Linked DNA regions of Homo sapiens: region 2 is linked to region 1. The links come from fine-mapping of genetic effects on gene expression. Tissue or cell type: spleen. Region 1 holds a variant in brackets; the other region holds the start of a gene. All regions are shown on one strand. Distances are between the middles of the regions.

Region 1 (4,000 bases):
CCAAAAGTTCAGTTTTCATATAGTTGACTGAGCTTCAGAATACATTTTTCCTTGAAATATTATTGTAAGCTGAAGTTAGGTTCCTAGAAAATCAAGCAGTGCCTAACTACAGGTATACAAATAACACACATGGTACATCGTGATACTGACTGCATATAATAAAACAAATACATCCGTGCATTCTTTTCTTTAGTAAACAAATTTGGAGTTATTTTTATGAGCACAGTAGTACAGGGGAGAAAAGTCTAGCCAGGCAGGATTTGGGCATCAGGCAGGGCTCATGGGAAAGTTTCTGAAGGAGAAACAGGCTACCTGTATTGCTAGCATCAGTAACTTATTAAATATATATGTATGTATGTATTTATACACTTGTATGCATGCATATGTATTTCAGTTCTTTTTAATTGAATATTTGGATCAGTATATCTTCATTTGCTAATCTTGATTTGAGTCAGTTCTAGGGAAACAGGCCTGTAATCCTTACAGCTGGGTTTCCTTTCCAAGACGCCCCACTCATAGCACAAACTATGCTCCGTGTGCATGATGTGAATCTCCTCTTCCATCCTTGCTAAGGATGTGACTCAGGTGTAGAGTGAAAATTCACCAGCAGCATCCCTACTGGTGTGCTGAATAAGCCCTGCACAGACTTGCAGCTATGAGTACACCAGAGGCACCAGAGTCAGGCTGCAGCCCAATAGAAGAATATTGCCTGCCGTCATGCCAGCTGCAGAATGCCAAACGCTGTGTCTCCAAACCCTGCAGGCTTTCCGATGGGGCACAACTCTGGTGCATAGAAAGTTTTCTAAGTTAAGCATTGGTGTGTTTTTTACAAGGCCTCTCAGGACTAGACAAAGATCATGATGAAATTAAGCCTTGTTTCTTTTCTGTAGCATCAATCTTTAGATACTGTGTTGATACTGAATTTCAAGGGTCCCTAAATAAATTCCTGTATTGCCTGAGAGTCACGGGTAGCATCTTCACAGGGAGGTCATGTTTCCAATAATTCCAGCTGAGGCACAGCATGCTGTTCAATAACTGACCCAGCTAGGATGCCTCACATGAGATGTCTATTTCATTATCAAAGTCTGAATTTTCACTGCAGTGAACATGATGTGAGCTACTTACAAATTGGCTAATATTACTAAATTTATTTGTCACCTTTGTGAAAATGATTTCAAAATATGCATGGGGCTGCTCTTTGGCACAATAACTGCTGGTCATTAGACTTGTATGAGCTTCCTGTTGCTGCTTAACAAATTACTACATAGTTAGTGACTTTTCAACACAAATTTATTCTCTCACATCACTGGAGACCAGAAGTCTGGAATGGGTCTTGTGTGTCTGAAATGCAGCTGTGGGCAGGATGGCCTCTCTTCTGGCTTCTCTAGGGGACAATCTGTGTCCTTGCCTCTCCCAGCCTCTGGAGGGGCCAGATTCCTTGGTTCATGGTCCTGCGTCACTCTTGCTTCCACTTCCGCCATCAGATTTCCTGCTCTGATTCTGACACTCCCATTTTCCTCTTCTACGTGGCCTCGTGATGACATTTGTCCCAC[C/T]CAGATAACCCAGGAAAACCTCCCATCTCTAAAGCTTTAAATTCACCACATCTGAAAAGTCCTTTTTGCTATAAGGGAAACATATTGACAGGTAGGAAGAGTTGGGACATGGACATCTTTGGAGACCACCATTTTGTCATAGCATCAATAGGAAATACAAATTTTGGCTTAAAACACAACAAAGTTATTGTCTTGTAATTCCAAAAGGGTCCCAGGAGGCTACAGTCAAGCTGTTGGCAGGATTGCATTTCTTTTGGACGCTCTAGGGGAGAGGCTGTTTCTTGCCTCTTCCGGTTTCTAGAGGACACTTGTATTCTTAGACTCTTGGCCACTTTGCACCGACCTCTGCTTCCTCATCACATGTTTTTCTCTGAATCTGACACTCTTGTCTCCCTCTTAGAAGGACCTTTGTGATTGTATTGGGCTCACATGGAGAATCCAGGATTATCTCTCCATCCCAAGATCCTTAAATGAATCACATCTGCAAAGCCCTTTTGCTGAGTGAGGTAGCATACTCACAGGTTTGGGGTTTTGTGCATTGGCACATGGACATATTTGCAGTGCTGTTATTTTGCCTGCCACTGTCACACCTACTGCATTGATGCAGGATTTCCACAAGAATAAGGAAGGCTTCGATTTGAAGAAGATTTTAGTAGAATTTTGGAGACTTTCTTTAATCACCTCATTGTCATTGAACTGGTAATAGCCAAAGCCTTTTTACCCTTTTTATACTTATCAATTATTTATTTCAGAGAATGAAATAAATGTTTTTTTTTCTTTTTTTTGACACAAGAAGACTGGACCAGATTGGTTAGGCAGTTTTACAAAGGTCACACAATTAGTTAATAGCAAAGCTACTCTAGAATTTGGCCATTTTACCCATCATAAAGCACTCTTCACCCATCAGCTGCTCCTGACCAAGCAGAGAGCTCTTTCTTGAGTTTAGGACCCTAAGCCCTCAATTACGATGACATAAATCCAAATTGAAGCAATTATCTTAAATTATAAAAATGCCCGACCGGGTGTGGTGGCTCACACCTGTAATCCCAGCACTTTGGGAGGCCGAGGCAGGTGGATCACAAGGTCAGGAGTTTGAGACCAGCCTAGTCAACATGGTGAAAGCCTGTCTCTACTAAAAATACAAAAATTAGGTGGGCGTGATTGCGGACACCTGTAATCCCAGCTACTCTGGAGGCTGGGGCAGGAAAAGAGCTTGAACCTGGGAGGTGGAGGTTGCAGTGAGCCAAGATCATGCCACTGCACTCCAGCCTGGGTGACAGAACGAGACTCCATCAAAAAAAAAAAAAAAATCCCATTTCCTTATCCTAAAATCAAGATGTTCTTCAAAAATGGGACATTATGCTTCAGTAAGTGAATGCTTGAATGTCTTAACAGAAATTGGAAGTAAAACAGAAATTGGACCTTTGTAAAAATACTGGATTCCTGGGTCTTCCAGTAATTCAGTGAAGTCTTTCCACAGTCAAGTTTCTTAACCTTTTGGGCTTGATTTTCTTTATCGAAAAAGTGAGGGTTTCAAGCAGGTGACCTAGCTGTCTCTCTTGCGCTATGACAGTCACCCACTCCACAGAGGCCTTGATCTCAGCTCTGTGTGGAGGCGGCTGGTTCCACATCAAAGCATTCCACATTTCAAGAGCCCCATGAATAGAAGGCTTTCTTTCACTGAGAGATACTTTTTGAGTATTATAAAAGCATAGGCCATTTTTGAAATGTTTAGAGGGATCGAAAATTTAAATTTATTTCCTGACTGAGGCTGAAACAGTTCTTATTGAGAGATTTATCTGAATAATACATTCATGTGTTAGAGGAGAGACACTATCATAGATGAAGTATACTTTCCTGAGGTTTAGAATTCTAAGGGGCTCTATAAAATTGGGAGAAGTCACAAGGCTCTAATAATAGCATTTATTGAGATGGTAATTGTAGAAAAACTGTCTTTTTTACATTTTTACTGGAGTTATTTTTTCTTTAAAAGTGCCTTTTTTTAGATCCAGCTAAATGCTGTCCACCTGTGTTTGTGTACCCTCCCTGCCCCCACCCTTGCTGCATGCACACACACACACACACACACACACAAACACACACACTCCTGCAATATGCTAAAAGCCAGCTCCTTGGTATGCATTCCTTGTCAGAATGCCATCTTTCAACATTGTCAGTGCAGTAATTTTCGGAAGGTGGGCAGTTCTCAGGGCCAAACAGCTAGAATGAAGCCCACCATGGCAGAAGGAGCGGCTCTGGTCCCTTTTATAAACACACGGTATTGGCCAGGAGAGGAGGAGGAATGAACCAGGAGCTGGCAGAGTGCCTCACGGGGCCTTTGGGATGAGGTTTCCCTGGGGTCTGCTCTGAGAGTAGGTGCATGCAACAGAAACGTCACGTCTGGTGCCTGCAATGGCCTGGTGGATTGGAGCTGGATGCCAGCACAG
Region 2 (4,000 bases), 61 kb after region 1:
AAAGGAAAAGAATAAAGAACACAGGGATGTAAAAACAGTATTGCGTTTTCTTGTTCACTGATTGAATTGTAAAAAAAATAATAACAACAAACAAATCTCAGGACACTTCTTGTTTACTGATATTTTACAAAATCACTCAAGTAACAGTCTATTTCTATTATAAACAACTTGTGAGTATTTTAACTCATGCTCAAAAAATAAATAATATGGTAAGAAGTCCAAAACTTTCATCAACTAGCCCAACAACAAATGTCAGCTGAGCACCTACTCAGGCAGACAGTATGGTATAGTGATTAGGAATGAAACATTGGAGCCAGCTGCCTGGCTTTTAACCCCCAGTCCTCACCTACTAGCTGTGTGATCCTGGGGTAAGCGACTTAACTTCTCTGTGCTTTTTCTCTATATGCGAAACGGAAATAATGTTGTGAGAGTTAAAATGAGTTAATCAATGTAAAGCCTTCCTGTCGGCCCTGGCCCCTGTTATGTGATCAATGTCAGATGGTTATTTTTACTTATGTTCCTATTACTGTGTTAAGAAGGGAAACACAAAAGAATTGTTTCTACTTGCAGCATTCTTGCAGCACACTCAGGCGTGGTGGCTCATGCCTGTAATCTCAGCACTTTGGGAGGCCGAGGCGAGCAGATTACTTGAAGTCAGGAGTTGCAGAAGAGCCTGGCCAACATGGTGAAACCCCATCTTTACTAAAAATACAAAAATTAGCCAGGCGTGGTGGTGGGTGCCTGTAATCCCAGCTACTCAGGAGGATGAGGCACGAGAATCACTTGAACCCGGGAGGTGGAGATTGCAGTGAGTCCAGATGACACTACTGCACTCCAGCCTGGGCGATAGAGTGAGACTCAAGTCTCTTATGTGGAGACGACATAAGCAATGAAGGAACAATAAATCATCATCTAACTGATTTTTAAAGTGCTCAGATTTTGGTACAGAAAATTAGAGATTAGGGCAGAGTATGATAAAGGCTCATATTCCCCTGAAGCCTAAAGGAGTGGTACAGGTGTTGGAAGTGGAAGAATGCAGGAGCGTCAGAGTCTTCATCAAAGAGGGGACCTTATAGGGCATGTGCACCTAAGTAGGAGGGATGTGCTGGGCAGAGGAGGATGAGAATGCCAGAAAGAGTCCTGGAAAGGCGGGGAGCTGGGTGAGTTCAGCACCTCACAGAGACAGAAAGGTGATGCCAGGGAGATGACAGCTCCATTGTTGAAAAACAATATTGTCATTAACAACTGCACTCCCCTCCACTTCATGCCTATCCAGAAACAAGGGGGAACACACCAGAGGAATACAGGCCCATGCCACCATGCCCAGCTAATTCTTTACTATTTTTTGTAGAGACAGGGTTTTTGCACATTGCCTAGGCTGGTCTCGAACTCCTGGGGTCAAGTGATCCGCCTGCCTCGGACTCCCAAAGTGCCGGGGTTACCGGCTTGGGCCACTGTGCCTGGCCGAACAAAGCTATTTGACAATATTAAAGAAACAGTTATCACACCCTTACATAATTCTATGAATAGCAGTTATAAAACATTTTCTAAGAACTTTTTGGGGGTGATAGAAATGTAAAATTCCTAGTGGATTTACTACACTGTTGCGATTGCAATACTTACATGGTGCAAGACTAACTTTCTGAATGATTATGACAAATGAAAGCGTAAATGCCATTTTCGGTTTTTGGAATATGAAAATACATGGAATGAGGCGCACCTCATGCTTCCACCAAACGGAACGTCTTTGGCTTCTTGCCTTAGGATCTTTCTAGCTCCTACCTTTAACATGCCTTTCCACCTCTACTGTTTATTGCTATGTGTTAGTCTCTCTTTTCTGTAAGAAAGGCATAAATCTGGGGTGCTTTTTTCCCAAATATTCCCGCAGAAAGCCACCTTTCCAAGCACAGAATCTTATCAGTGCCTAGGAGTTCAGCCGACTTAGCACGAAGAGTGCGATGGAAGGGCTGCTTTTGGCAAACCGTCTCAACCCCGGGCGACGGCGGGCACGGGAGGTCAGGGAGCGCTGGAGGAAACCTGCACTGGGGTAGAAATGGCTGGAGGAAGGCGGACCGCGGGCTCGCTCTCATGGTGCCAACCCCGGGGACCTTTCTTCAGGCTCCCTGCGGGATCCCCAGCCTCCCCTCCCCCTCGGAGCTCCGCCCCCTTCCTGGCCTCAAACTCCGAGTCCATTCAAACCTCGCCTTCCTCGCCCTGCGCGTTGTCAGGCGTGTAATTGGGGAAACTCCTCCCCGCCGGGACCGCCTCGGAGGCGCTGCCAGGGGACAGCCGCCCAGCTGCCCCCACCTCCCAGCACAGCGCACACAGCCCCGGCCTGGGCACCCGCGCCCGCTCGCGGCTCCAGGCGGGGTGGGCGGCGCCGCGCCAGGGGGTCCCCGGCGCCCATTGCTCCCGCCGCCCGGTTGCGCGGACCGGCGCTAGTGCGCGGGTGGGGGCGGCGCGCCGCGGTGGCCCGGCGTCCCGTGTGCGTCCAGTGTGCGCCCCGCGGGGGCGCGGCCAGCGCCAGAGTAGATACCTGTCCCGCCCGCCGCGGCCAGCAGCCTCGGAGGAAGCCAGGGCAAAGAGGGCCGGCGGAGACCAGGTCCGCGCCGGAGGAAGCCGCGCCCGGCCGAGGCCCCGGACCCTGCGCCCCGAGCTCCACGGCACCATGGCCCCGAAGCTGCTGCTCCTCCTCTGCCTGTTCTCGGGCTTGCACGCGCGGTAAGTGGCGCGGGGGCCGCATCCCCGGAGGCCCCGAGCTGGGCGACAGGGCGGCGGGGGGCGCTGTCTGCTGGAGTCCCTGGCGCGCCAGCCGTCGGCTGGGCTGCGGCACGGCGGGCCGGGAGGGGACTGGGAAGTCGGTCTGCACCTCACCTGTCCCAGCTCCCTTGGACACGGTCATCTGCTTTTTCCTCTGCAGCCGGGAGTGTGGGGACTCAGATTAATGGGCTCGTCTCCTGACGCTTTTAGGATCTGGTGGTTTTAAGGGGTTTTGAGAACCAGGTTCAGGGGGCAGGGGCCATTTCTGGCTCCTTACCGACCCCTAATTCCCACCTCAGCTGTTTCAGGGGCTCACACACACACACACTTTGGCTGACATTCTCTGTCATTTCCATCACTCTGAAATTTCCAAGAACCCGGGAACCGTGGTTCTAACTGCCTAGTTTAGACCGGGCTGGAAAGAGCTAATGCATTGGAGGCAGGCGCGGGGGGATTGGAACCAGGTGGGCAGAAGAAAGCCCTGCTTGTCTGGGAGGACTCCCCTCCCAGGTCCTGCAAACACACACACACACCTTCCACATCAGCCACTTTCACACAGAGGAACACACGCACTCCCACCCCCATAAAGCACGCATGTCGAAATGGATAATAAGGCTTCTGCCTGGTAATGTAAGAAATCATCTCACCATAAATTCCGCAACCTTCCTCCCAGTACACCAACCGGCTAATGGGAGCTTAGAATCACTCTAGAAGAGATGAAGAGGGCGCATGAGGATACAAGGACAGTGGGACCCAAAGGGTTAAATCCTGTTGCTGTAAACACAACTGGAGATTCTGGGTTTAGTTTCTTTAATTCTGTCTCTCTGGCTGGATTTCTGGCTAGAGCTTGCAGACTGTCCTGTTATTTGAAAATTGGAGCAGTGTCTGGCCTTTACCTCTTTCCCCACCCTAGGAAGCTCAGCGTGCCCCTATCCCCCAAACCCTCTTGTTTTGACGCTTCTCCATTTCCTGGGTCTGGGAGCTAGAGAATCAGAGGGCATCCTTGCGTGCACAAGCCTGGCCACCATCAGGAGGCAATGCCAGGAGGCCTTGCCTTTTCATTCCTATTTGTGAACTACCAAGGAGCTAGGAAGACACATGAATAAATCCTACTAAACATGAAGGGGGCCCCCAGTTCTCACTCCTGAATTGGGCAGGGGTGCTTACCCTGAGGAAGGAAGCCCTGGCCCTCCCCCTTGCAACTGCTCCTCTTTGCTGAGTTGAGTGTGGAAGCCGACTC

Direction of the effects. Positions count from the first base shown, and alleles are read on the strand shown. Sizes are in standard deviations (SD) of each study's normalised expression.
For the expression in spleen of the gene that starts at base 2,314 in region 2, allele T in region 1 goes with a higher level than allele C (moderate effect, 0.65 SD a copy in GTEx).

Evidence for each region. PIP is the estimated chance that this variant, and not a neighbour inherited with it, causes the effect. A credible set is the group of variants that fine-mapping cannot tell apart.
Region 2: GABRG3 starts here. The variant in region 1 is the best candidate, but not a certain one, in a credible set for the expression of GABRG3 in spleen (GTEx, PIP 0.56).

What each region holds. Positions count from the first base shown.
Region 1 is chr15:26,907,751-26,911,750 of GRCh38, forward strand. All of the region lies in intron 6 of GABRA5 (gamma-aminobutyric acid type A receptor subunit alpha5), which reads left to right. Among named protein-coding and RNA genes, the nearest start is that of GABRA5, 43 kb to the left of the region's middle. The variant C/T (reference allele first, on the strand shown) is at 1,554.
Region 2 is chr15:26,968,868-26,972,867 of GRCh38, forward strand. It overlaps GABRG3 (gamma-aminobutyric acid type A receptor subunit gamma3), which reads left to right and starts at 2,314. Exons shown (of 10, transcript NM_033223.5): 1 at 2,314-2,721. The coding sequence starts at 2,669.